Linked DNA regions of Homo sapiens. The protein of the gene in region 1 interacts with the protein of each later gene in a pairwise test. Each region holds a gene or a part of one and is shown on either strand. Other genes may lie near its edges.

Region 1 (15,261 bases):
CTCCTGCCCAGGCTTGTGTGGGTTGTGAGTGGCGGCGCTGGGCTTGAAGGCGAGGTCCGTGGCTGTCTTGTGCAGTCCTTGCCGCAGGCCTGCCGCTCTGCTGCTTGCCTTGTAGCAATCGTCTCATCTAATTTTCACAAGCCGTGCAGCAGGTGCTGTCTCTGTGTTATAAAGGGCATGGGTGGACCGGGGGGTTACAGCCACCCTGGTGACAAGTGATCAGAGGACAGGAGGTCCCTGGCCCAGGGCCTTGAAGGAAGACAAGTCATGGGTCACTTGGGAAGGCACAGACCGACAGTAAGAGGCTGTGACAAAGCGGCTCAGAGGGAACGCGGGCTTCGGGAGCAGGCACATCGTGCGGGGCTGGAGAGCAATGGGACTGGGTCTGCAGCGCTGTGAGGAAGGGAGTCCAGGGGAGGAACAGCACACGCCAAGCACAGTGTGAGCCAAGAACAGGGCCCCAGGGGACTGGAGGCCTGGTCAGGTGAAGGAGCTGATTGGTAGACAGGCGGACCAGGTGGACATGGCTAGATCATGGAGGGCTCCTGCCAGGTGCCAACCCCCACTCCTGTGTCTTCTCGGAGGCAAAGGCCCCTTGTGCCACCTCTGGTGGCCAATAGGCTGGAACCTGAACTTGGGATATGGAGGGCAGATAAGGGTGGGGAGGGCTATTCTATGGGCAGGCCGAGCGGGCAGCCTGGGACTCTGGCTCAGCTGTCAGTCCCAGAAGAGGGGTCTGAGGAATTCCAGGAAGCGAGGGGAGGAACCAGCCCCACTGCCCCTGCCTCAGAATCCCCCAGGCGGACGTCCCAGCACCAGGAAGTGAGTAACTGCCTCTCCAGACCTGCAGACGACAGCCCCGCTGCCAAGGATAGAATTAGGAAGAGTGGCCAGGCCGACTGCCAGGCTGAGGGCTACTTCCCGCCAAACCTGGGAACCCACCGTCACCTCCCAGGGCAGCAGAGGGATAGACGGACAGAGGAAGGACTGGCCTCTTCTTCACCTTGCCCCCACCTCAGGTCCCTCTCCATCTCACTTCTGGAGGTTTTTGCACCAGGAATAGCCAGGACTTTGCTTGCTTTAAGCGTTTATTTCTTCCAAACGCATTTCATAAACCCTTCAGAGGACTTTGCATATTTTCTTAACACTAAGGACCTCTATTTATAAGACACCAGCTTTCAAGGGAAAGAATAATTGCAGATTAAATCTACCCACTTCAATTTCTTAAGTGTTAGAGTGGAGAAAAGTCTCTGAGTTGGGGAAGTCCCTGCCAAGCCCTGGGTGAGGAACTGGGCATTCCCTCTCTCCCTTGTTTGCCCAGCAACCCCCAGAGGTGGAGGGTAGGGCTCACTTCTCCAGAGTCTCGTCACTCCAAGTCTCTCTGCTGGAAGCAGTGGTGCCCGGTTCAGAGACACTCAAAGTGAGTCCAAGGCGTTCCATCCAGAGGCCACGCTTTCCATTCAAACCAGGACTTGCTTCAAAGGCAGAAAGAAGGCAGCGGCGTTCTAACAGATACCAAGGCAAGAGACCCGGTCACATCCTTCCTTACTGGTGTTGTTTCCCTACATTGGCCAACCACACCCACCGAAAAGGGGAGGGCAGGGCCCCAGAGTTCCTGCTCCTTTGAGTCCCCCCACTCCCTGTGAGAGGAAGGTAGAGAGTGCTGATGAAACGTGCACATACCAAGAAGTGAAAGGAAAACAGATGAGCTTGTTTTCTGCAGTGTTTCTGCAAGCTGTGAAATAGGCACAATTCTGGTGGTTTTAAATAAGAGCTAAATGCACTGGTTTTTGTGCTTATAACTGGCATTGAGTGATATCAAGGTGAATGGTAAATGCATGCTAATAATTTAACGTTTTAATTTTTCTATACTCTCAAGGTGAATGGTAAATGCATGCTAATAATTTAACGTTTTAATTTTTCTATACTTAGAACAACATTAAACAGCAAATTTTAAAAACACCATGACAGGCCAGGAGCAGTGGCTCACTCCTGCAATCCCAGCATTTTGGGAGGCTGAAGGCAGGGAGATCACTTGAGGTCAGGAGTTTGAGACCAGCCTGGCCAACAGGGTGAAACCTCATCTCTACCAAAAATACAAAAATTAGCTGGGCATGGTGGCACACACTTGTAATTCCAGCTACTCGGGAGGCTGAGGCAAGAGATTTGCTTGAACCCGGGAGGTGGAGGTTACAGTGAGCCAAGATCACACCACACCACTGCCCTCCAGCCTGGGGGAGCAACAGAGTGAGACTTGGTCTCAAAATAACAAAACAACAACAACAACAAAAAAGAACACTTGTCATGACAAGTCAAAAGAGAGACCACAGAAGAAAGGAAAAAGCCTTATGGCTTAATACCTTTACCAACACTTCTTTCCTGCTTTTTGAGGAATGGGCCCATTTTTCACTTTGTACGGAGTCCCACAAATTCTGTAGTTGGCCTGCCTGTCATACGTTTCCGTGAATGCTAAGGAAAGGATGGTGGCTGGAGGCGGAGCTGTGCAAGAAGAAACAGCAATACAAAAGGGGGAAATTCGGCCGGGCGCAGTGGCTCACGCCTGTAATCCCAGCACTTCGGGAGGCTGAGGAGGGCGGATCACGAGGTCAGGAGATCGAGACCATCCCGGCTACCACGGAGAAACCCCGTCTCTACTAAAAATACAAAAAATTAGCTGGGCATGGTGGCGGGCACCTGTAGTCCCAGCTACTCGGGAGGCTGAGGCAGGAGAATCGCTTGAACCCGGGAGGCGGAGCTTGCAGTGAGCCGAGATCGTGTCACCGCACTCCAGCCTGGGGGACAGAGCGAGACTCCGTCTCAAAAAAAAATAAAGGGGGGGGCGGAATTCCGCTTACAACAACAGCATACATAATATGATCCTGTTCATGTAAAGTGGGATATATTGAAGTACGGACATATATAACACTATATAATGAATATATGTAAACACACAGAAACATGGCATCAAATTCTTTTTTTTTTTTTTTTTTTAATTTGAGACACAGTTTCATTCTGTCACTCAGGCTGAAGTGCAGTGGCGCAATCTCGGCTCACTGCAACATCCGCCTCCTGGGTTCAAGGGATTCTTCTGCCTCAGCCTCCCAAGTAGCTGGGATTACAGGCTCCTGCCACCACACCTGGCTAATTTTGTATTTTTTAGTAGAGACAGGGTTTTACCATGTTGGCCAGGCTGGTCTCAAACCCCTGACCTCAAGTGATCCACCCGCCTGGACTTCCAAAGTGCTGGGACTACAGGCGTGAGCCACCGCGCCCAGCTGGCATCAAATTCTTAATCATCTCCAAGCTGTACACTTTTCAGTTGATTTTCACTTTTTATCATACACATTAAGTTCAAATAATAGAGAAACAATACATCCATATTATGTATATGATCAGCTGTTTTTTTTTGTTTTTTTTGTTTTTTGAGACAGAGTCTCACTCTGTTGCCCAGGCGAGACTGCAGTGGTGCAATTTCGGCTTACTGCAACCTCCACCTCCCAGGTTCAAGTGATTCTCCTGCCTCAGCCTCCTGAGTAACTGGCATTACAGATGTGTGCCACCATGCCTGGCTCATTTTTGTATTTTTTAGTAGAGACGGGGTTTTGCTATGTTGGCCAGGCTGATCTCGAACTCCTGACCTCAGATGATCCGCCTGCCTCGGCCTCCCAAAGTGCTGGGATTACAGGCGCGAGCCACTGCACCCAGCCATGACCAGCTTTTTTAAAAAGCTGCATTTTCATTTGGGGAAGGGGAAGACATGCCGATGGAGTCAGACTTGGACTCAGCTCTTGGCTCTGCTGTTTCCACTGTGCAGGATTTAGGCCAAGTTAAGTAACTCCTCTCAGCCTCTGATTCTCCATCTGTAAAATGGGGATACTGACTGGTAACCATCTCATCAGGCTGTTGTGAAGGGTCGTGTGCTTACGTAGGGCCTGCTACAGAGATCACTTGGCAGCGAGTCGCCATGCGGGGCTAGGGCTGGGGGGCTCATGCCTGTGCCAGAGGACAGTGCCCCCACAGGCTGTGCAGGAGGCCTCTGGGAAGGGAGGCCAGAGGCAGAGAAGGCAGGCCAGAGATGGCACGCATGGGCACATGGGCTGGGAGGCGCATTGGGGACGCAGAGGCTCTCTAGAGTTCTTAGCTGTGAGTGTTAGTGCCAATCAGGCAAAACTACAGGCTCTGCATGGGTTTTGCCATGAACCCAAATCAGCACTTATCCTCTGACCCTGCTTTCCAGTTTCCCTGCTGGTCTGTCTGACCTGTGTGTAACTGGTCAGCCTTTTGCAGGGCGGCTGCTGATTCACAGAGGACCAGGGAGTGCCTTTCTGGTCAGCACTGTGGCATTCTGGACAAAAGCACAGCCCGCTCCTGGAGGCCGACGAATAGAATAATGGCCTTCCCGGGAGGACCTGTGCCTTACACACAGACATGTGGAGAGAAAGATCTGGAACATTGGGGTGGAGGGTGGACTTTCATAAACAAACATGTACACACATGTCTACAGCCCGCTTTTATGCTGTTCTGTTTGGCCTGGTCTTTCCTTCATCCCAGTAAGGTTGGATCTGGGCACTTTTCCCTATAGACTGCTTGTACTCCTTGCAGAGGGCACCTCCTATGTGCCGGGTGATAAATAGCAATAAGTAAGACGGGGTCCTTGCCTCGTGGTGTTCTCAGACCACCAAGAACAGTTCCGGGGTGTGTTAGAAAACAGGCATGCAAGAGGTGCGGACAAGACCAGGGGCTTCAGGAAAGGCCCCCAGGCAGCCTCCCAAGAGAAGAGCAGGCTTGATTCAAGCGAGGGCGAGAAAGGGCATTTCAGGCAGAGATTGCCACATCAAAGGCCCCGGGTCAAGTGCAATCCTGCCCCACTCAGGAGTGCGAGGGGGGTCTGTGGGGCTAAAGTACAGAGGGCTGGCCGTGGCTGGGGAGGCTGCAGTGGCCGGGGAGGAGACAGCAGGAGGAACAGCTTCTTATCGTGCCATGTGAAAGAGCCCTGCTTAGTGGGGCAGGGTTTTGCCAAAATAACTGGATCCCTCCTGTGGTCCTTGCTGAACGCAGTTGGGCTGACTCGAACCTGGAGGCTTTACAGGGCTGAGCCACCCCCTGCAGACCCCAGCCAAGGAGACTGAGTGGTGAGGAGTGTGATGAGGCTGCCGCTGCAGGGACTTTGCAGGGGCGTTGAGACAAACCTTCTCATAGCAAAAATGCAGTACAAAAGTGTGCCACTCCAGACATAAACTGGGTGCTACTGAGTCCTCAAGGAACACTTTGAAATCCTCCGCCTGGCTCTGCCCATAGGCAGGGGACTGGCCTCAGGGTAAACTCCTCCGAGGCACGGGGATGTCTGAGGCATGGGGATGACTGATTCATTCACTTCTGCTTGACAATGCACTGCCTGGCTATGTGGGTATCTGATAAATGAGTGTGTGGGTGGATGGATGGAGGGAGGGAGGGAGGGAGGCAGTGAGAGAGGGAGGGATGGACTGATGGATGGACAGACAGACGGATGGATGGATGGACGGATGGACGGACAGATGGATGGATGGATGGATGGTTGGATGGATAGACGGATGGACAGACAGACAGGCGAATAAGTAAATGAATGGTTGGATAGGTGGATAGGCAGGTGGGCGGATGTGTGGGTAGATACCAGTGTAGATGAATGGAAGAGTGTGTAATTGTTTTATAAGATTAAAATATTCTTTTGATGGCAGGACACAACACAGTGACACTCAGATAAATGAAAGGTAGAACTTTTGTTTCTTACAGCTCCAAATGAGAGGCTGTCAGGCTGGGCCACACAGGATGTGCAACTGGGGACAGGGTCCAAGCAAGCTGGAGCTATAGGCGGCAGCTATGTGTGGCACGTAGGGTGGTGTTAACGAGGTTTCCTTGGCTCCCTATGGATTGGCTAACTTAAATAAGTTTGTGAGTTCCAGATGATGGGAGCTGTCCATTATTGTTTGGTACCTGGCTCCAAGGCCATCAGGGCAGGTGGCTAGTGGCCCAGAGTGTGAGAACCTGGTAAGAGAAAGGGCCAGAATGTGAACTTAATCAGCTGCTCATGAACTGGCTGGCCTCCAGCCAGGACCTCAAAACTGGTTTAAAGTAGCCTTTTTAAAAAACTATATGACAGAGATGGATGGAGATGTGTGCAGATGGACAGATGTCTTTTAGAGATTTCTGTCAATGATATTTACAGAAGCATCAACATTGGATTCAGATCCTTGAGGATTTTCAACTCATAGATACAGAGCTCTACAATATCTAAGTTGGAAGAGACTTCAGAGGGTCTCTGGACGCTCATGCAGGTCTCAATATGTTGTGGATCTCAGAGCTCTTCAATATTTTAGTGAAAGCTATAGATGAGGCTCCATAGGGGATAAAGCACAGACACACCTTTTCAGAGGGCTTGTGGACTCTGGGCAGCCTGTCCATAGACCTCTGTCCCCAACTGGCAAGTCAGGAAACTCCAGATTAAGGAGCCCCAATGTGGTTGAACAGCCAGGTGCACAGATGAGTCAACCACACAGCCAGGCCAGGGAGGGCCTTCACTCAAGAGCCTACAGCCAGTTCACAGCCAAGCCAGGGCTAGCGCCCAGGCCACCCATAAACTGATCTGAGACTCTGTTTCCCTGTCTCCATGATGATGGGATCAGGCTTGATTGCTGGTTTGTAGGCTTGTTATGAATCAAGTCACAGGGAAGAGGAGCTGATGGGCTGGGGGGACGTCCTCTGGCCCTCCTGTCTCTTCCCCAGATCCACTGGGCCCACTCTTATCTGTTCTCTTCTGAAGGAAGGGTTTTAAGGCTTCAAAAAAAAATGTTTTGAAAGTCCCTGCCCTTTCCAGCTCCTACCGTCTCAGCCCTGGGAGTGTAAAGTGCTGCAGATAGTTAGTAAGTCTTTGAGCAAAACTGAGAAAGCCAGCCTGAGCCTTGACATGGGAGAAACCTCCGCCATACATCTCCGAAGAAACGGCCGCGTGTCTCAGGGGAGCGCAAACACCCGTACCCAGGAAACAGGACAGCTTCTGCCACTGTCGCCCTTGGGAGCCGTACGTGGCATACAAAGAAATCCCAGGACTCCGCCTGCCCACCTGGCCACCCTCTGTTTACACCTTCCGCGTAAACGCCCACTGTTTACATCCAAAACTCAGACACAAAATAACCACCTCAAGAAGATAAATAATGATAAGAAATAAATGTTACGCGAGGCAAATTTATTCACATGGGGCTTCCCAGGCCACTTTGTGGTCAGCCGGGAGGGACGTTTTTGCCGTCCCACGACTCCAACGGGCAGCCGGGCTACGCAAACATGGAAATCTTCCAAGAGCCTCCCTGGCCCCCAGGGCTCAGAGGGTGGCAGAGCGGAGAGCGAAGGTGGCCGCAGCCTTCCCGGCCCCACAGCCAGCCTGGCTCCAGCTGGGCAGGAGTGCAGAGCTCAGCTGGAGGCGGAGGGGGAAGTGCCCAGGAGGCTGATGACATCACTACCCAGCCCTTGAAAGATGAGCTGTTCCCGCCGCCACTCCAGCTCTGGCTTCTGGGCTCCGAGGAGGGGTGGGGACGGTGGGGACGGTGGGGACATCAGGCTGCCCCGCAGTACCAGGGAGCGACTGAAGTGCCCATGCCGCTTGCTCCGGAGAAGGTGGGTGCCGGGCAGGGGCTGCTCCAGCCGCCTCACCTCTGCTGGGAGGACAAACTGTCCCAGCACAGAGGGAGGGAGGGAGGGCAGGCAGCGGGGAGAAGTTTCCCTGTGGTCGTGGGGAGTTGGGAAAAGTTCCCTTCCTTCCGGAGGGGAGGTCTGACAGGCGATGGGGAGAAGGGTTCCCAGCAGGAGGAATCGCCCTGTTTGTCTGTTGTAGGTTTCTCTTCTCTGAATCAAGGTGACAGACAGGCTTGTGTGTGTCCAGTGTGTGAGGGATTTCGTGATTGGATTTTCACATACTTTGAGTGGACACCTTGGAGTAAGGCAGCGAGGTGTGTGTGGTGCAGCAGGGACGGGTGCTGGGTGGAGGCTCCAGAACCTGGCTTTTCACCCACAGCTGTGCCACTCCTTGGCCCTGTGTGACCCTGGACAAGCTATTCAACCTCTCTGAGCCTCAGTTTCTCTGTCTGCAAAGCAGCCAGCTCGCTGGCTCCCTGGGGGTGGCAGGGTTAAATCAGAAGCAGGCGGGGGTGGGGGGGTTTGTGAATGTTGGCTGATGCGCCTCCAGGAGGCAGGTGGTAGTGACTACCTCAGATGGGCTTAGAGACCCTCTTCCCACGGTCCTGGCTGACCAGGGCAGGGGGATAGGATGGTGCAGGGGTTCCAAGCACCGGCTTTGCATCCGGCCCAGGTTGCAGCTCCAGCCCTGCTCTCACCCTGTGGGTGACGTTTTTGGGCGAGTTATTTTGTCCTGTCTCCTGAGCTATAAAGAAGACCTGGAAGTTCCTCTTTATGCAAAGATAGAGGTAGGCTCTTGCCTGTGAAGCACCACGTATGTCATAGGCACTAAATAAATGGCAGCCGTGATTCGAGTTGCTGAGAGTAGGTCGTTTCCGCAGCCTGGGTGGAGGTGAACAGCAGGTGTTGCTGTTCCAGGCAGGTCAGAATGTGCCTCACTGAGTCACAGGCCGCCTGTGGCTCCCCAGCCTACAGGAAGTGGGAGCCCTGGCCTGGGTGTGGGGTGATGGGGGCCTCCCTGGCCAACCCCGCCCCTAATTCCATTTCTGAGTTGGAGAAGGGCTTAGGTGGTGGGGGAACAGGTAAGCAACCCCAGAGGACATTGCAAAGAGGCCCTGCCCGAGGTTCTCTGGAGAAAAAACTGTGCTGCGTCCTTCGGGCCCTGGCAGCAGCAAGAGACATTCCACAGTTGTGAGCCCCACAAGCTTGGAGGAAGCATTTGCTGTTTCCCCTGCTTGGGGTGAGAGCAGGGGACAGCCAAGAGAAGGCGTCTTTGGATGAAAAAGAGGAAGCATGCGTGCTGTCCCCACAGGCAGCACCCCAGGCCTCATCCCAGCTCTCCCTGCAACCCTGCACTCCAAGCCTCTCACTGCACTGATGAGGAAACTGAGTCTCAGAGGGGGAACATGACCTCAGCCAGCCCTTCGCTCAGTGTCCAGGGAAATGCCTCAATCTCTTTGGGATTCCCTCCCTTGCAAACGGGGAGGTTCCCATGGTTGGGCCTGCATGATGGATCTGAGGACTTTGAAAGTGGTATTTGCCTGCCGGTGGGACCCAACCTGGAAATATTAGGTTGGTGCAAAAGTCATCTCGGTTCTTGCCATTAGAAGTAATGCCAAAAACCGCAATGACTTTTGCACCAACCGAATAGCTGTGCCACGTGGTTTTTGCTAACACAGTGACTGGCTCAGTAACAAGTTTGGTGGCTCCAGAGGTAACATTAGGGCGGCCTCCTCACCTGTGCTGCTTGTGGTCAGGGAGGGGCCCACCTGGGCGCGGTGGGGGGAGCCCTGCAGATTTGCCCAGTGTCATAGCCTGTTTGAGCTGCTATAAGAAATACTTTAGACTGGGTAATTTATCAAAAAACAGACATTTATTGCTCTCGGTGCTGGAGGCTGGGAAGCCCGAGATCAAGGCACTGGCAGATTGGGTGTCTGGTGAGGACCTAGTCGTCATAGATGGCACCTTCTATGCATCCTCATATGGTGGAAGGGTGAACACGCTCTCCCAGGCCTCCTTTAAAGACCACCAATCCCATTCACAAGGAGGGGGACCTCATGATCTAATCTCCCCCCAGAAGTCTCACCTTTTAATATCACCAGCTTGGAGATTAAGTCTCAACAGGTGAATTTTGGAGGGACACAGGCATTTGGATCATAGCACCGGGGGACTCTGGTTTTCAGAATGAAAGTAGGGGCCTTGTCTATCCGCTCAAGCTGCCTCCTCTGCACTGAAAACGATGCCTAGCCCAACATGGATGGATCAGTGTTTGCTGAAATGCTGAATGGTTAAATGAATAAATAAATATTGCTCATATAGCAGGCAATAAAAAAGCATACAGAACCTATCACTAAGTGAATGAAGCTACTCTGAAAAGGCATATGCTGTATGATTTCAACTATATGTGACATTCTGGAAAAAGGCAAAACTATGAAGACAGTAAAAAATAAAAAAAATCAGTGGTTGCCAGGAATTAGGGGAGGGAGGAGAGAATGGGAGGAGCCCAGAGACTTTTAGGGCAGTGAAACTTCTGTATGACACTGTAATGGTAGAGGCATGTCATTGTGCGTTTGTGCAAACCCACAGAATGTCCATCACCAAGAGTGAACCCTGATGAAAACTATGGACTTTGGGTGATGATGATGTGTCAACGCAGGTTCATCAATTACAACAAATTGACTGCTCTTGTGGGGGATGTCAGTAACGGGGGAGGCTACGTATGTGTAGGCACAGGGGATATATGGTAAGTCTCCGTACTTTCTGCTCAATTTTGCTGTGAATCTAAAACTGCTCTTTAAAAAAAAAAAGGCACACAGAGCAGATCTGCATGTTGTTTTGAGGATTCAGAAGGCACTTAGGACAATTACGGTACCTCAGGGTCATGAGTCAAACAATCAGACCTGCCAAGACTTGACACCCCAAATGCATCACTTCTGACATCCATTGGGTCCAGGAATCCCCTGCCTCATGAATATCCATCTTAGTGTGCATGCCTCCAAGAATGGGGAGCTCACTACTTTGCGAGGCAGCGCATTCCATCTTAGGAGAGTTCTACTGTTTAAAAGCTCTTCCTCCAACTGCCCCCACTGAGCAATGGGTCCACTTTCATTTCCTTGGGGTTTGTACCATTCTAGTCCTATTGCTTCTCTCTGAGCTAAATATCCACAGCTACTAAATCTGCCCCCCTTGAAAAGTGTTAAATCCTCAATTCCTCCTCTGAGCTCCTCTGGTTTTCCTGGGGACCTAAGGCTCTGCTTCCCCAAAACACCCACTCCAGGGTTGTTTTCTAGAACAAACGTAAGGCATGAAGTATTTCTTTGACTCTTTCATCACAGTGGGTTCTGGAAGATTCTGGAGGCTGGAAACATATGTGCCTCCCCCTCCCCACACACATTCCAAAAAAGTCATCACAGCAGAAAGCACGGTGGAACAAACAGCTCTCGGTTCGAATTCACCGTCACTTACTGGCCAGGAAAGTTATCTGAGCCTCAGTTTCTTCTCCTGTACAATGGGGAGCATCATTCCTATTTTTGAGGACCACTAGGAGGCTTACCTCTGTTTGTGCTGATGTAGTGAAAGGGGATGTCAGGCACACTGCAGGAGCTCAGGTACCAGACGGACTGTCTATGGAGGCAGGAGTGAGGGCCTGGGGCGGTCACAGAGGTTGCATTTGCTTTGCAGTAAGGCCATGGCCGCTTAAGGGTGTCCAGAAAAAAGCCCTGTCCGACATGCACACACTCCTGTGTCCAGGCAATGAGCCTGTGGGCACTGACAGCAAGAGTCCTTCTCACGCTTCTCTTCAGGGCTCAAACTTTAGATTTACTCCGGCCTGTCCCATCCCATTCACTGCCAACCCCTCTGAGCCTCTCTGATCTGTGCCACCGGTGAAGGGCAGTCGTGGGGCACAGAGAAGTGGCCCAGCTGAGTGACATCTGGAAATGAGCAGTGCCTGAGGGGACGCCCGTGGGGTGTTGTGACCTGTACAGTGCCAGGCTCCAGCACAGCCCCGTCGCTTCTGTGGTTCTTATCATGGTCATGAGGTCGCTTCTCCTCTTCCCTGCGGGTTTCCTAAGTGGTCACACTCCAGTGGCAGGGTGGTCTGCCGGAGAAAGACCAAAATTTGTCATACTTTAGAATCACCTGGAGACTGGTCACCCACGCAGGTGCGGGGGTCCTGCTCTGGGGACTGTGATTTGAAGTCTGGGTACTATTCACTGAAATGACAGACTGCGGCAAATCTCAATCAATCAAGGTTCATCGAGTTGATAAACTTCAATTGACATTTATCGAGAGTTTGAGGGTGCACCTGGGAAAAACATGAGCCACAGAAAATGTGTGTGGCCTATGCTCTCCGAAGAGTCATGAGACTTAGTGTTGTAAATCAAAGAGAAACTGACTGAAGCAGGTCTCAATTATTTTTGAAGTTTATTTTGCCAAGATTAAGGATGCACCCAGGAAAGAGGGACACGAAATCACAGGAAACATCTCTGGCCCATGCTTCTTTCAAAGAAGGGTCTTCACTATTCAAAGGGAAAAAAGCAGGCAGTAGGGGAAAGAAGGAAAAATCGGGGGAAGGTGGCCAAAAGAGGCAAGCAGTTGCACCCCTTTGAGCCTTTTCATTAACTTCACTGAATGCACATTTTTCATGTGAAAGAAGCAGGTGGAGGAATCATCAATTCCGCATTCACCTGGTGCTCAGTCAATCTGCATTTTTATATAAGATAAAATAATCATAGGGCTGGGCACGGTAGCTCACAACTGTAATCCCAGCAGCTTGGGAGGCCAAGTTGTGTGGATCACCTGAGGTCAAGAGTTCGAGACCAGCCTGTCCAACATGGTGAAACCCTGTCTCTACTAAAAATACAAAAACTAGCCAGGCACGGTGGTGCATGCCTGTAGTCCTAGCTACTTGGGAAGCTGAGGCAGGAGAATCATTTGAACTCAGGAGGCAGAGGTTGCAGGGAGCTGAGATCACACCACTGCACTCCAGGCTGGGTGACAGAGCAAGACTCTATCTCAAAATAATAATAATAATAATAATCATCATCATCATCATCATAGCATATAGGAAGCTGTCAGCTATGCACTCGTCTCAGGTGAGCAGAGGGATGACTTTGGGTTCTATCCTTTGTTCCATACCTGTGAAGCTAAGCTGTTAATTTATATCATGAGGGTGAAATACAACAGAGCTGCTTGAAGGCAAAGATCCTGGGGCCCACAAGGAATTTCACTGTGAGCAAAATGTGAGGGAAGTAAATAGTTATCCATTTAGACACAAAACGGGAGGCGGGTTGCATGACCCAGCTCCCAGCTAGACTTTTCCCTTTGGCTTAGTGCGTTTGGGGTCTGGGGATTTTAATTTTATTTTTCTTTCACAGTATTTACACATGTCCTTGAAGTGGAGAAAGCATGTAGGAAGAGGAGGTTAGGCAGAAGGAGGCCTGATCTCATCTTGCCTTTGTCTTGCTTTTATGCTGTACCTGGGGAGATCAGCACCATCAGCGTGACTCTAACAGACTTGAGTGTGAGGAGCTAGGCTTGGATTGCAGACCTCAAGTTACAATTGATGTGTCCTTGTTTTGTGGTAAGATCCACATCTTGAAAGGTTTCACCCAGCAAAGAACAATTTGTGGGGGCAGTCATGGGGAGATATCCGAGGCCTTTTCCTTTCTGTGGGGGTCTGGCTAATGTCTAAGGTTGTGGAGTAACAGCTGTCATTAGGAATAAGGATGACAATGTTGGCTGACTCAGTCTCCAGGCTTAACTTTCCCTTTGGCATAAAGAGTTTGGGGGTCCCAAGATTTCTGTTTTCCTTTACAGTACTCAAGGACTTGCTAATATCTCAGGGGATTTCAGCCACACTTTGAAACAAGCTACCTTAGCAAATGGTCTGTCCTGGACCCAAAAGCCACTCTCCTCAGGCCCTTCCTCCTAGTCCCACCAGCCAAAAAACTTGGGGACCCCAAACCTGTTCTTCACTCTCTGGCACCTGTGCTCATGTGCCTGCTGCCTCAGGAAAGGACAGAAACCCTCCCCGATCCAAGTTATTAGCAAACTGCCCATCTCCACAAAAATTTAAATGGACAGATTGTTAAATGCACACAGCTCACAGCCAGCTCCTTTCAAGGTAGATTTGGGCCCAAACATTTCGGGAAGCATCAGGCTGTGCCCCGCCATCCCTACCAAACAGGAATCCTCTCGAGGGAAAAGACTGGGCCTTTCCCTCAGCCCCTAGCACCCACTCATGCTTGGCACCTGCTGTGCTCTAAGAGTGCAGGGGTCACTCCCTGACCACAGAGGGAGGCTCTCTGGGGTTCTCCCGGAGCCTCGGAGATTGCACCTTGTGCATGCGCTGCTGCACCTGGGGTACATCACCCCCACTCTGGAGCCCACTGGCCGGTTAGCAAAGTGAGAGGTGAGAGAAGGACCTCTTGGTCTTCTTTGAACAGAAAGATCCAGAAAGCAATGGCTAGAACACAAGAACAGGTCAGGGGAGGCAGGAGAGGGTCTGCACACCTGCTACAGGTGTGCTCACACGTGGGCCAGGGCCTGCAGATGAGGGATCTGTGCTGATCATTTGTGATAGCCAAAAGTAGTGAAAACCTGGGGGGACTCCTCAAATGAACTGTAGCACATTGGGGAGATGGACTCTGTGAAGATGATTCCTCTCTCCACCCACTTCCCTTCTCCCTCCTCCTCCCGCTCCTCCTTTTTCGGAAGCCAGGCACAGGGATTGAATCCCACCCCATTCCTCCCCTGCTGTGTGACCTAGGGCAAGAGATGTGGTCTCTGGGATCCTTCGGTTCCTTCAGCTATAAATAGTAGTAGAATTGCAAACTACCTACGAAAACTGGGAACTCCCTGCGAAGGCCGGTGCATTACAGGGCAGTCCTACTCTGAAATACTGTGAGGCTATTGAAAAGCAAGGTGGGTCGACAGATTGTTAAATGCAAAGAGGTGAGGACACAGCCGGCGGTGCATTTAGGGTGCTTCTGCAGGCGTCCTTATACATGGATATGTGCACATCTGCTCCTGAAAGCTCAGAAGATGTCTGGAAAGCAACAGGAGACACCAGTGAGCCTGGCTGTCTCTTGAGGCAACAGGCAGGGACAGAATCTGGAGGGAGACCTACCCCTCACTGTATTCTTTTTCGCACTCTGAAATGTTACCATGAGGATGCATATCTCTTTGCAAAAATTTAAATATAAAAAGCAAAACAAACTTGAATAGAAATAAACTACTTGAAAATTTTAGAAAACACTGTTACATCAAAGAGACAGATCATCAAAACTGAAATTATAGATATTTGAGAAACAACTAACTATAAGAACACTGCTTACCAAACTTATGGGATGCAGCCAAAGCCATAGTCAGGGGATGAGTCATGCCTTTAAATTTTTAAATTATTAAACCAAAAAGATTGCAAAAAAAAACTGTTCAATTCAATAAACTAGATAATAATGATCCAAAAAAGTAGAAGAAAGAAAAGAATTACAAAAACAAAATGACAAGTTAGAAAGGTAAAAAGCATTAATGTCAGTAGGCCATCTAAGGATGGCTCTTTGAAGAGCAGACAGGAGAAGGGCAATCCCAGGAAGT
Region 2 (15,139 bases), on another chromosome or scaffold:
TGACTTCCACAGTGCCGAGATTACAGGCATGAGCCACCACACCTGGCCAAGTTTAATTTGTTCATGGCTGAGAACAGTTAGCTCGGAATACTTACATTGTTTTTTGAATAAGGAATTCCTTATTCTGAGTGAGTCACGAATGAGAGCTGATAGATGCTTTCTTGAAAAGGGCAATACAGTCATCCCTTGGTATCCATGGGGGATTGGTTCCAGGAACCCAACTTGATATCAGAATCCATGGGTGCTCAAGTCCCATTATAGAGAATGGGTTATATGGTATTTGCATATAACCTACATACATCCTCCTGTGTACTTTAAATCATCTGAAGATGATTACTTATACCTAATAAAATACCTACACATCACTTCATTTGCATGGATTCAACATAGTGCTTGGTGTTCAGTAAATTCAAGTTTTGCTTTTTTGGAACTTTGTGGAATTTTTCTTTTTCTGAATATTTTTGATTGGCAGTTGGTTGAAGCCATGGATGCAGAACCCATGGATATGGAGGGCTGACTGTACTTACTTACATATCTATCTATCTTTGAGTAACAAACTCTTTGGGGGAAAAGAGGGAAGTGTATTGAGCAAGAGAAGGCAAAAAACATTACATAATATTTTGATTCTGTTACGTGTGTCTATAGATTGTTTCATTCTAATCAAGACCTAAGAAGGTATGATTCTGTGACTGATTTAGAATTCTGGGGTGGAAATATCCTGGAACCATGTTTTTTAATAAATTCTGTCTCTTGGAAAGAGTTAACAACAGCCTGGGAAAGAGTTGTTATTCCAAAAGTCAGCCTGTTACTTGGTGAAGCTGAAGTTTAAGAGTTCTGGGGAAAAATAAAATCTAGTAATTCCAGCCTAGTTTGTTGATTGATGATTGTCTTTTTTTTTACCCTAAATAACAACATTTCTTTTTTGAATCTTCACTCTCATTTTTTGGCCACCTACATGAGCTAGCACTCTTTTAGGTGCTATACATGATGTGGGGCACAAAAATGGACTACAGGAGTGTTGCCCTAAATTAGAAAGTTATTTTATAACTAATTTTAAATTAATTTGAAAAGATCTTTGTAACACAATATAAGGAGGAACAGTCACTTGATACTTTACTTAGAATTACACATAAATATTAGCCTTAAAAAAATTTAGGCTGGGCGCGGTGGCTCACATCTGTAATCCCAGCACTTTGGGAGGCCAAGGCAGGCAGATCACGTGAGGTCAGGAGTTCGAGACCAACCCGGCCAATGTGGTGAAGCCCCATCTCCACTAAAATAAATTAACTAACTAACTAAATAAATAAGTAAATGCAAAAATTAGCCAGGTGTGGTGGTGTGCACCTGTAATCCCAGCTACTGGGGAGGCTGAAACAGGAGAATCATTTGAACCCAGGACGGAGGTTGCAGTGAGCCGAGATCACACCACTGCACTTCTGCCTGGGCAACAGAGTGAGATTCCATCTCAAAAAAAAAAAAAAAATTTACAACGTCCCAAAGATCTTTAGTTACAGTGCAGCCTCCCATAAAAGCAAGGAGACCAAGTCATGAATACCTTGACTTAATGGTATGCCTATCTGTCTTCCTTTACAATTGTGCTTTTCACCATTTACAATAGTATAAACTGAACCAAAGAGGCAAAGACTTGTACATTGAAAACTTCAAAATGTTGCCATACAAAATGAAGACATAAAAGTATGTTTTTCACCAGGCACGGTGGCCCGCACCTGTAATCCCAGCACTTTGGGAGGCCAAGAAAAAAAAGTATCATATTTTCATGGAGTCAAAGACTTAATAAATATTGTTAAGATGTCAATACTACCCAGAGTAATCTACAGATTCAATAGTCCCTATGAAAATCCCAACATTTCTGCAGAAATAGAAAAATCAATCCTAAAATTCATACAGAATGTCAAGAGACCCCCCCCCCCGATACTCAAAATAATCTTGAAAAAGAACAAAGTTGGAAGTCTTCACTTACTGATCTCAAAATTTAACACAAAACTACAGTAACCAACAGTATGGTACTGGCATAAAAATTAGCATATAAACCAATGGAATAGAATAAAGAGCCTAGAAGTAAATCTTTACACATATAGTCAGATTTTTGACAGGGGTGCCAAGACCATTCAGTGGAGAAAATAGGGTCCTTTCAACAAATGGTGTTGGGAAAACTGGATATCTACATACAAAAAAAAGTTGGACCCTTACACCATATACAAATATTAACTTAAAATCCATCAAGAACTAGCTCCATCCACTAAGGTTGGAAGAAAAAAGAGAGCTAGAATCATTAAACTCTTTAAAAAAGAAGAAAAAGAATTATTGGCCCCGTGTGGTGGTGCATGCCTGCAATCCCAGCACTTTGGGAGGCCGAGGCAGGTGTATCACCTGAGGTCAGGAGTTGGAGACCAGCCTGGCCAACATGGTGAAACCCCGTCTCTACTAAAAATACAAAAATTAGCCAGGTGTGGTGGTGGGCACCTGTAATCCCAGCTACTCAGGCGGCTGAGGCAGGAGAATTGCGTGAATGTGGGAGGCGGAGGTTGTAGTGAGCCGCGATTGCGCTATTGTACTCCAGCCTGAGCGACGGAGCAAGAAAAGACAGAAAAAAGCAGCCTGTCTTTTTTTTCAATCTCAAAAAGAAAAAAAAAAATGGAAAAGCTTCATGACATTGGATTTAGCAGTAATTTCCTGGGTATGACCAAAAGCACAGGCAACAAAAGGAAAAACAGATTGGACTTCAGCAAAATTAAAAATTTGTGCATCAAGGGACACTATCAGCAGAATGAAAAGGCAACCCAAGGAATGGGCGAAAACATTTGCAAATAAATCCTGCAACAATAAAAAGCCTGAAAAAAATGAGCAAAGTACTTGAATAGACACTTCTTGCAAAAAGATATAGAAATGTCCAATAAGTACAGAAAAGCTCAACATCAGTAATCACTGGGGAAGTGTACAAATCAAAACCACAATGAGATACCACTTTATAAACCTATTAAGGTGGCTATTATCAAAAAAGCAGAACAAGTGTTGACAAGGACATAGAGAAGCTGGAACCCATGTATACAGTTGGTGGGAATGTAAAATGGTACAGCAGTATGGTGATTTCTTAAAAAAGAAAAAAAAACAATTAGCATATATAATCCAGCAAATCCATTTCTGGGTATATACCCCAAAGAATTCAAAGCAGGAACTTATACAGATACTTGTACACCAGTGTTTACAGCCCTATTATTCAAAATAGCTGAAAGGTAGAGACAACCCAGGTATCCATCAATGGATGAATGGGTAAACAAAATTTGGTATATGCATACGATTGAATATTATTCAGCTTTAAGAACAAATTCTGACACATGCTACAACATAGATGAAACTTAAGGACATGATAAGTGAAATAAGCCAGTCATACATAGGACAAATATTGTATGACTCCATTTACACTAAGTACCTAGAATAGTCAAAGCATAAAGTAAAATGATGGTTCCCAGGGGCTTAAGGAAGAGCAGAATGGGGAGTCAGTGTTTAATAGGTACAGTTTGTGTTGGAGGAAGATGAAAAATTCTGGTGACAGATGGTGGTAATGGTTGCACAGCAATGTGAATGCACTTAATGCCACAGAAATGTACGCTTACAAATGGTTAAAACAGCAAGTTTTATGTATATTTTACTAGTTTAAAAAAAATTGTGTTTTCCGGAAGGATTCAGAAAGTAATTACAATTATGTGTGTCTATTTGGGTTATTACACAGGCATATATCTCTGTTCACTGAGAGGGCCTAGCAGCAGACATGCCAGCAGCAACGGGTACATCCAATGCCCAGATCTTGTTTTCTAATACCATTCTCCAAGAAAAGGAATCAGGGCTCCCTAGAGAAATGGCTGATTCTGGGTCTAGGGCATCTTGTAGTGCCAGAAAGTAAAGAAGTGTTCCACAAACAAGGATGTAGGCATGTGAAAGGGACACAGGAGCCAACTGATAGAATGCCCAATGGCCAAAGATGAAACAAATCTCAGCAACAAAGTAAATAATGCACCTTAGGATTATAACCCAAAGGATAAAGTAAGTACCCATGAGTCCATGTGTGTATATGACCTGATGGAGCGGTAGCATCTCTCCTATACAGAAAAAGCCCAAATAATTATGTAGATACCCCCCGCCCCTCACCACTTCAAGGAGATAGAGCTTAACTCTCCACCTTTCGAGTATGGATTGTGCTTAGTAACTTGCTTTAAGAGTACAATATGTAAAGAAGAAAAAAAATTTATAGTAACCTGGCAAACACTATCTTGGCCAGGTGATCAAAATTTGTATTAATATAATGAGTGATAAGCCCTATTAAAAATATGCACCCTTGATGTGATGAAAATGCCCCTTTGTGGTCTTCCTCCTAAGACCAGAAGGAAAACAATCAGAAAACCTCACCTTACGAACATTCTACAAAACCAGCTAGTACCCCTTAACACTGTCATGGTCATCAAAAACAAGTCTGGGATCCTTCTGTAGTTCATAAGCGTGACGACTGGGCTTTCACACTTCTGTGTGAGATGTGCCTCCTTCACACCTTGTTACATCAGGACATTACCCATCTGACGTGAAAAAAGTTAAAAAGGTTGGGAATCTGAAGTCATTAAAAACAAAAACATCTGAGGTGGTTAAAGAGACATAACTGAATGTAATTGTGGGATCCTGGAATGAAAATAATATTTGGAAAAAAACTAAAGATCTGAACTGTGGGATTTAGTTAATAGTAATGTATCAAATTTGGTTCCTTAGTTGTGACAAATATCCTGCAGTAATGTAGGATACTAACAATAGGTATACAGGTGGGTGAGGCGTATACAGGAACTCTGTACTCTTTTTGCAATGTCTCTGTAGATCTAAAACTTTGTTTTTTTTTTGAGATGGAGTGTCACTCTGTCGCCCAGGCTGGAGTGCAATGGCGCAATCTCGGCTCACTGCAACCTCTGCCTCCCGGGTTCGAGCAATTCTCCTGCCTCAGCCTCCTTAGTAGCTAGGATTACAGGCACGCATCACCATGCCCGGCTAATTTTTTGTATTTTTAGTAGAGATGGGGTGTCACCATGTTGGTCAGGGTGGTCTCAAACTCCTGACCTCATGATCCGCCCGACTCAGCCTCCCAAAGTGCTGGGATTACAGGTACGAGCCACCACACCCAGTGATCTAAAACTACTCTAAAATAAAGTTTATATATTAAAAAATTGTGCTTTCATACTCAAAGCAAGTATAGGTCTAACCCTATAGAACCTGACTGAACTCATCCCTAAATGCAGTTTGAGTTCTTACTTATTTCCAAATAGACTCCAAGTTTTGCAAGGTTGATAAGCAGATCGGAACTATGACAAAGTCCTTAGTTCATTCACTATAAGTCAAGTTATAAAAACATATGATGAAACTCTTAAAGGACATTTAACCATTCTGTGAAAGGAGGTTCTCCATTACAGCCTCATTTCAGCTTTGTTCACCAAAAAATGGGGGCGGTTTTTAAATAATTATATTTCAGTAGTTTAGTGGTCCTGTTTTGATTTACAGTAAAACTTCCTTCAAATTAACTTAGCCTAATATATTACCCAAAAAGTTATCCCAAGTCAAATCTTAATAATTCTTAGACAATAGCTGGTTTGGGAACTGTCATCGATGACAGGTCTCCCATGCTGGGAACAGATTAATTTTGATGTTAACACACTACTTTGGTATAAAGATTCTTGTAAGCATGCCAGTCAATATACCAAATCAGAAACCACGTATCTGACAAGCACAATTTCTACACCTAGAATAAGTGGCACAAACTTTAGTCAGTGAATTATCTTGAAATGTAAAATTAATTTAAAAATAGAACCAGTAGGCCAGGTGCAGTGGCTCACACCTGTAATCCCAGTACTTTGGCAGGCCGAGGCAGGCAGATCACTTGAGGCCAGGAGTTCGAGGCCAGTCATGTAGTGAAACCCCATCTTTACTAAAAGTACAAAAATTGGCTTGGCGTGGTGGCACATGCCTGTAATACCAGCTACTCGGGAGGCTGAGATAGGAGAATCGCTTGAACCCAGGAGGCAGAGGTTGCAGTGAGCCAAGATTGCGCTATTGCACTCCGACCTGGGCGACAGAGTGAGACCCTATATTTAAAAAAAAAAAAAATCCAGCAAGCGGTTGTAAGCATCACTGAGGATATCAGATCCCTAAGACTTAATTAAGCATGGAAAAGAAGAGGTAACTCAGGCTTCCAAAGGGCAAGGGCAAGTACAGTGAAAAAGCTGTACAAGTCTCCAGAAAGCAGTAATGACTTAGCATTCTGGATGCTGCTTTATGGCACAAAAGTATCATTCATGGAGTGAGCTGGTGGAAGGTAAAGTTAAGAAAAAATAAAGTATCATTCATATTCAATTACAACATCTATCACAAATACTATGTTCTTCTAGCATAACATTGCTCGTATTCCGCAATTTATTTTTGTCTTGCTGTTACCCAGGCTGGAGTGCAGTGGTGTAACCTGTGTGATCTCAGCTTCCACTTCCCAGGCTCCAGTGATACTCCCACCTCAGCCTCCTGAGTAGCTGGAACTACAGGCGTGAGCCACCATGGCTAGCTAGTTTTTGTATTTTTGGTAGAGATGGGTTTCACCATGTTGCCCAGGCTGGTCTCAAACTTCTAAGCTCAGGTGATCCACCTGCCCCGGCCTCCCAAAGTGCTAGAATTACAGGTGTGAGCCACCATGCTCAGCCCCATCTTGCTTTCTTGAGGAGGCAAGAAATGAATGAATCAACAGCCAGCCCATCAGAAACTGTTAATAACTTGTCTCCCTAGCTCTTGGTCTTTATTCCCAAATGTCTGCCATCTTCTGTCAAGCAGCAGCAGCAAAGGTTCAGAACCTCTTTATTTCCATCATAACCAGGTATTTTTGTTTGTTTTTGTTTTTGAGACGGAGTCTCACTCTGTTGCCCAGGATGGAGTGCAGTGGCGTGATCCCGGCTCACTGCAACCTCTGCCTCCCTGGTTCAAGCAATTCTCCTCAGCCTCCCAAGTAGCTGGGATTATAGGCATGCACTATCACACCCGGCTAACTTTTATATTTTTAGTACAGACAGGGTTTCACCATGTTGGCCAGGCTAGTCTCGAACTCCTGGCCTCAGGTGATTCGCCCACCTCGGCCTCCCAAAGTGCTGGGATTACAGGAATGAGCCACCAAGCCAGGCCATAACCAGGTATGTTTTCAAATCACAAGTCTTTGAATAAACTTGTTAAATTTTGCCTGTGGGCTTCAAATTAAGATTCTTAAACATATCTTGGTGATCCTTGTGACCTTCAATGAATCCATCCATATTCTAGAGTCTACTTTGGTTATACACCTTCATGCTTTATCCCCAAGTGCTTTCAGAACCATTTCACTAAGATGTTCTAATGCTGACATAAAACCTTGAAACTATAAAAGGGGAGATTTAAGAATTCAGCGATGTAAAAATAGTTTCTGCCATCATGAGCAAACAAAGAGGACAAACTGGGGGGAAAAGGTATTTAAAGCTCACTATAGGAACAAAGTACTCCTGCAGATTAGTTAAAAGACCAAAGCCAATAGAAAAGCGGTTAATAAACATCACACAAAGGCAATCAGCCAAACTCAGATTATGGAAACCTACAGGTTAATCTTATTTCTTCAGCAAATAAGAAAAAAATAAATGGATGGCAAAACATCCTGAATAAGAGAAGAAACAGACACTTCAACTTTACTAAAGATATCCAAATGGCTAGTAAGCTTATGAAAAAGTACTATTCATTGTCAGGGAATGCAAATTAAAACCAGAAGATACCACTACACAATGGCTAAAATTATAGACTGACAACAGCAAATGGTAAGGATATGGACCTACTAGAACTCTGGGAATGTAAACCAGGATAACCATTTAGGAAAAGGTTTGTCGTCTTCTAGTAAAATTTAAAATACATCAACTCAGGATAATCTCACTCCTAAATACTTATCCAAATTAAATTAAATTAAAATGTAGGTTCACAAAAAGGTTGTACATGTTCATACCAACTTTATTCATGATAGCCCCAAACTAGAAACAGCCCATTGTTCACCAGTTAGTTGTTCACCTAACAGGTGAAACGTTAAAATGTGGCATTCATACATAGAACACTGCTCAGCCATAAAAAGGAACAAAGCTTAAACACACTGATGAACATACAAACATGCTGAGTAAAAGGAACTTACAGAATACATACTGCATAAGTGAGTCCGTTATATGAAGTTCTAGAATAGGCAAAATTAATCTACAGTGAACAAAATCCTAACAGTAGCTGACTGCCAGGGGAGGGAAGAAGGGACAGGAGAGAGAGGTGCAGGAATTGACTAGGTGAAAAAATTCAGATGTAATACAGATGTTCCAGACATAGGGGTTTGAGTTACATGCTTTTACATCAAAACTCATCAAATGAGTCTGGGTATGGTGGCTCACACCTGTAATCCCAGCTACTCGGGAGGCTGAGGCAGGAGACTCCCTTGAACCCAGGAGGTGGAGGTTGCAGTGAGCCAAGACCAGGCCACTGCACTCTAGCCTGGGCGATACAAGACTCCATCTCAAAAAAAAAAAAAAAAAAAGAAAAAACCTCATCAAATGATACACTTAACATTTATTCACCTTACTGCAAATCTCCCTCAAAAAAACTCCAATGACGGCTGGGTGTGGTGGCTGATGCCTGTAATCCCAGCACTTTGGGAGGCCGAGGCAGGCAAATGACTGGAGGCCAGGAGTTCCAGACCAGCCTGGCCAACATGATGAAACCCCATCTCTACTAAAAATACAAAAATTAGTCAGGCGTGGTGGTGCACATCTGTAATCCCAGCTACTCGGGAATCTGAGGCATGAGAATTGCTTGAAACTGGGAGGTGGAGGCTGTAATGAGCTGGGATCACGTCACTATAACTCCAGCCTGGGTGACAGAGCGACTGTCTCAAACACAAAAAACAAAAACAAAAACAAATTCCCATGACATGTATGCTGAAAGGATTAAAAGTGAAAAATGTCTACAACTTACTTGGACATGCATATAGAAAAAAAGATGAGACTGCAGGAGGCAGGCTATGGGATAAAGCATGGCAAAATGCTGCTTGTACAATCTAAGGGATGGGTATTGGCATCACCAAGATTTTATATACTGACAGAAAATGATCTTTAGGGTGTTTAGGTGGGAGAAAAGCCAAAATACAAAATAGCATGTACAGTATAATTTATATTTTTAAAAGAAATGACAACACCCACTAACACTTGCTTATAAATAAAGTAAAAGTCACTGCAAGCTTACACTAGAAACTGATAACAGGGCTGTGCGAGAATAGAAACTAAACAGCTGAATTACAGGAGGGGAAGGAGAATCTTCACTACCGTTTGTATCTCTTCAAGTTTATTTCCTTCAAAAAATAAAATATAAACAACTTTAAAATGAGCCTGCTTTTTTTTTTTCTGAGACAGGGTCTCACTCTGTCACTCAGGCTGGAGTGCAGCAACAGTCATGGCTCACTGCAGGCTTGACTTCCCAGGCTCAAGCAGTCCTCCCACTTCAGCCTCACAAAGTGCGGGGATTACAGATGTCAGCCACCACACCTAGCCTATTCTTGATTTTCATATAATCAGGCTTAAGACAGATTAAACCTTCCTTCCTATACTTCCTTTCTAAAAATAAGAAAACCACTAGAACTAAAATTCTGGACAGAAAATCCAGACACCTCACCAATGATGATATAAGGATGGCAGATTAAGTATATGAAAAGGTGCTCCACATCACTATGGGATTGGGAATTAAAACGATGAGACCACTATTCACCCATTAGCTAAAATGCAAGAGTGACATCACCAAATACTAATGAGGGTGAGGAGCTACAGGAACTCTTATTCATTGTCAATGGGAATTCAAAATAGTCATGTTGGAACAGTTTGGCAGTTTCTTCCAAAACTAAACATACTCTTAACTTACAATCCAGCAACCTGGTTCCTTGGTATTTACCCAAAGGAGCTGAAAACGAGTCTACACAAAAACCTGCACATAAATGTTTATAGCAGCTTTATTCCCTTCCTACAAACTTCAGATTCTCTTCTAATTTGCTGAACTTGGGGAGTGGGAGGGTAATGTATTTCTAATGCGATAGCGCAATTTGGATTGGAACTCTACTGCTGACATACATACCATTCTCCTCTATACTATAGGTCCTACCAATTCAATGTGAGTGTCTTCCGATAATTTAGGGGAAACTCTCAGAACAATGGAGTTTTTTGTATTTTGGTTTTTTTGATTTTGACAGAGTCTCACTCTGTTGCCCAGGCTGGAGTGCAATGGTGTGATCTTGGCTCGCTACAACCTCTGCCTCCCAGGTTCAAGCGATTCTCCTGCCTTGGCCTCCCAAGTAACTGGGATTACAGGCGTGTGCCACACCTGGCTAATTTTTGCATTTTCAGTAGAGCCGGAGTTTCACTAAGTTGGCCAGGCTAATCTTGAACTCCTGACCTCAAGTGACCCACCATGGAGGGTTTTAAATTCTGAAACAAACAGGATGTAACCCCAAAAAATAACTTTCCAAATGAGAACTGAGTAAGGGCTGTTCAGGGCAGAGGACATTAACAAGGCATGTTGATTAATAAGCAGATTCATGGCACACAATGTTGCCTTCAAACTGGGTTCCTTATGCTTCCCCCTTCAAGTAACACAGAAGTAGTGAGAATTTGGAGCCTTCCTCCCAGGGAAGATTCGGTCCCCCTTCCCACATGACAGAAGCTTAAGTTACCCACGCATAAAGGGACACATACTCTATTTCTGCTTCATTGCCTGGTGTCAATATTTAGATGAGACCACAATATTCAGATGAGACCACAATATTCAGCAATCAGCTCCCTGGTATTTACATACTGCTTCTCAGAGTTCTCCCTTGCACTCCGTAAGCAGCAGCTAGGCTAAAGCAGGATATGAGCACCCTGACCATATGCCCCACTCCCACTATTCTTCCTGATGGCTTTACCACAAAGGAAGTTATAGACACAAGGAACCCAAACAGAAGGAAATTCACCATCACTGCTTCCTTCAATAGCAAAGAGTGATGCAAAACAGTCTTCTCAAATGTGGGGAGACGGTACCGTCTTCCACTTGCATGGAAATAAGATTACTTTTACTGTATTATGTGCTTCTCTTCCTTTCCCATAACTACATCCACCTTAGCAATCACTTACGTACTAGCCTAGATCATGAACAAAAACAAAAGGGAGCATTCAAATACATAAAATGATTTCCCAATAATGGCCACATTTTGTACAGAAAACTCAGCCTGTAGCGTGCCAAGAAGATATATCCTTTCAACCTTACCCATCCATCATATAGCATTTTAATGCTTTGCTTGCATTCTTTTTCCAGAGATGTGCAAATAAAACTCATTAGCTTAAATCAATTGCAGATGAATTCCTCACAGTAGGCCCCACAGATCTTTTCCACAGCAAATCAGATACCAAATGTGAAAGAGCAACAAAGATCACATTCTAATAGTTCGTACAACTACAGATACCAGTTCTCATAGCTTGGCATATTCAACCATATATGAAAACGCATTTCCATCTAGGCAGTACTACTGATGATGTTAAGCTGGTTAAGTCATGTTCACAGGATTTTAGAGAACACACACACGAAAATTAACCCTTACTACTTATATTAATATAGCAGGACTTGAGGTAATAATATATTCAGTTGACTCACAGACTCCAATAATAAATACTCTTAGGTAATCTTCAGCCTGAAACAAGTCTTCATTTATTGACTACAGTACAGTGATTTCGCATCTTAGCTGGTAATCAAAGATGGTTATGTATTAAGTAAGAGAAGACATAGTCTCTCTTCCAGGTATCACCTGTCAGAAACCTGGGCAAATTTAATTTTAAGAACTAGAACTGCATCTCCTGGTGGCAGTCGTCACCCTGAGAACAGGAACAAGGCAAAGAAAGCATACAGGATTTTGATTCTCCTACACAGGTGCACATAAAGTTAGTTTATTAATGACTATATTTTGAAGCCAGCCATTTTGTCCAATATTTAAATAACAAGCTGTTTAATATTAAAGCAGAAAGTACTGCCACATTGTGACAGAAGTACAGCTTTATCCATAAACCCTTCACACAATTATACATTAAATGCTATTTTTATTTAAGCAAGGCACCCCTACTTGTTCTAAAATATGGGATGTACTACTCCATTTAAAAAGCAAATGAGGAGACTGATTTTTTTCCTATCTAGAGCTGGTTTAAATTCAAGTGAAGCCATTAATTTTCTTACCAGTCTGGACTGTTCTGACATGTCACTTCACAGTTTTGAGACTAACAAACACCCTTAGGTCTACCCCAAACCAAAAAAAGCCAGGGAGGGACAGTTTAGACAACTTTTAAGTTAAGACTAGAATGCCCCCTTAAGTAGATAGGCACCACCGTTATACGCCTTTAGCACAAGGCTTAGAAAGGCAAAACATTTCTAAAGACATAAAACCGCCAAATTGTCATTTACACTAAGCTGTGGTATTTTTTGTTTTGATTTTTAAAAATTCCTATCTCTAAGTAATCAAATACAGCAAAATTTAAAACTATTCTGCCAAACCATACCAGTTCAAAGGTCTGAAACCGTTCTTTGCTTTGGTGAATGTTTGGTTAAAATAAATCACTGTTTCACTCCATGAGAAGTTTTACATCAGAGCACTCAATTCACAGGCAAAAAAAAAAAGTTACTTTTTAAATGAAACCGTTTAAAGAACACTGCTGAATAAAAATATGTGGTCTTTACAATGAGTAACATATCATCTATGAAAACAAACCATTTAATCATATAAAACAAAGACCATATTTTTAAATCAGATCCTGGACAGTTTAAACAAAAATTTTAATTTGTGGTTTATTTCATAATCCCAAACTGGATCTTTCATTTCTTCTTCTAAACAGTCCACTATGAAACTTTTCTTAGAAGCAATTAACCCAAAACACCAAAATCATTTCCCTAGCAGTTGCTGCTAATAAACTGGAACTGTATATCCCAAGTCCAAGAAAGATGTGCAAATGAAATGCTTCTTGCTTCACCCTAAAAATAAAACAAAAAATATTGTACATTTACTCAAGATGAAAAAGGATGGCACACATTCCCATACCATTTAAAATTGCAAATTCAAATTTTTCTCCTTTCTAATTTAGTGCAAGCTATCTGATAAACCGAGTTAAAGTGAGGAAAACTAGTCAGGCATTAGTGTTTACAGGCTGGTACAAAAAACTGAGTTTCAGAATATATTTTAAATAGATTTTAGCTATTATAAATATTTAACACCAAAGAATTGTGGGACTTCATATCCAAAAATAGCAACAGAAGAGGCCAGGCACGGTGGCTCACGCCTGTAATCCCAGCACTTTGGGAGGTTGAGGCGGGCAGATCAGCTGAGGTCAGGAGTTCGAGACCAACCCGGCCAACATAAAGAAACCCCGTCTCCACAAAAATAAAAAATTAGCCGGGTGTGGTGGCGCATGCCTGTAATCCCAGCTACTGGGGAGGCTGAGGCAGGAGAATCACTTGAACCCAGGAGGCAGAGGTTGCAGTGAGCTGAGACTGTGCCATTGCACTCCAACCTGGGCAACGAGAGAAACTCCGTCTCAAAAAATAAATAAATAAAAATAAAATACAAAACTTAGCCGGGCATGGTGGCATACGCCTGTAGCCCCAGCTACTTCATAGACTGAGGCAGGAGAATCGCTTGAACCCGGGGGGCGGAGGTTGCAGTAAGCGGAGATCACACCACTGCACTCCAGCCTGGGCGACAGAGAGAGACTCCGTCTCCCAAAAAAAAAAAAAAAGCAATAGAATAGGATATAGTAATAGAATGAATGTCCGTGTTTTTTTGTTCCTTTTTTTTTTTTTTTTTTGAGACAGAGTTTCGTTCTGTCATCCAGGCTGGTGGAGTGCAGTGGCACCATCTCAGTCACTGCAACCTCCGCCTCCCAGATTCATGTGATTCTCCTGCCTCAGCCTTCCCAGTAGCTGGAACTACAGACATGCACCACCACACCCAGCTAATTTTTGTATTTTTAGGAGAGACAGGGTTTCGCCATTTTGGCCAGGCTGGTCTCAAACTCCTGACCTCAGGTGATCTGCCTGCCTCAGCCTCCTGAAGTAATGGGATTACTGGAGTAACCCACCATGCCTGGCCCCATGTGTTTTCAAGAAATCATTACAGGTAAGTGTCTCAAAAGAATGAGCCATTACCTGTAGAAAAGTGACTGCAATACAACAGTAATACTTACAATACCTTATGGGAAAAAAAAAAGACACCATATATTTAATCGAGGCAAGGAACATCAAGATGTATTAAGCAAATCTCACGGGTAGGTTAACACTATAAAATTATGTACTTCCTAAGGCAAAAAAAAAATGCCATTTTAGGAAAAGGAAACAGTGGCACATTAACTGTGTTTATGGATGATACACTCTGGTTTCACATGGTATCCTTTTAAAAATACCTTAAAACAGAAAATGGCTGGGCGTGGTGGCTCACACCTGTAATCCCAGCACTTTGGGAGGCTGAGGCTAGCGGATCACTGGATGTCGGGAGTTTGAGACCAGCCTGGCCAACATGGTGAAACCCCGTCTCTACTAAATATACAAAAATTAGCTGGATGTGGTAGAGAATGCCTGTAATCCTAGCTACTTGGGAGGCTGAGGCAGAAGAATCACTTGAACCCGGGAGGCAGGGGTTGCAGTGAGCTGAGATTGTGCCACTGCACTTCACCCTGGGCAAAAAGAGTGAGATTTCATATCAAAAAAAAAAAAAAAAAAAAAACAAAAGTAACCTGAGAAAATGGAAAACGTGTTTAAATTTAAGTGGGGAAAAAAAGCTAATGCAAGTCACATATCCAGTCTATTACGATTTATAGCTACTAAAGGTGGCTATTTTTTGGCAAACAGCATGATGTTGGAAATTATGCATAAAAATTCTATATGGAGATAATGCTCAAAGCTACCATATAAATCATAAGGAATTATGGCTGGGAGCAGTGGCTCACTCCTGTAATCCCAGCACTTTGGGAAGCCAAGGCAGGTAAATCACTTGAGGCCAGGAGTTAGT

Evidence for each region.
Region 2: the proteins of BDKRB2 (region 1) and GRSF1 interact in a two-hybrid assay, tested with the Homo sapiens proteins (one study listed by IntAct).

Annotation. Positions count from the first base shown.
Region 1 is NC_000014.9:96,197,316-96,212,576, forward strand, and holds the start of BDKRB2 (B2 bradykinin receptor), read left to right. Parts: upstream 1-7,523; 5' UTR 7,524-7,644; intron 7,645-15,261. UniProt on the Homo sapiens protein: Receptor for bradykinin. It is associated with G proteins that activate a phosphatidylinositol-calcium second messenger system.
Region 2 is NC_000004.12:70,807,752-70,822,890, forward strand, and holds the end of GRSF1 (G-rich sequence factor 1), read right to left. Parts: intron 13,111-15,139; 3' UTR 8,032-13,110; downstream 1-8,031. UniProt on the Homo sapiens protein: Regulator of post-transcriptional mitochondrial gene expression, required for assembly of the mitochondrial ribosome and for recruitment of mRNA and lncRNA. Binds RNAs containing the 14 base G-rich element.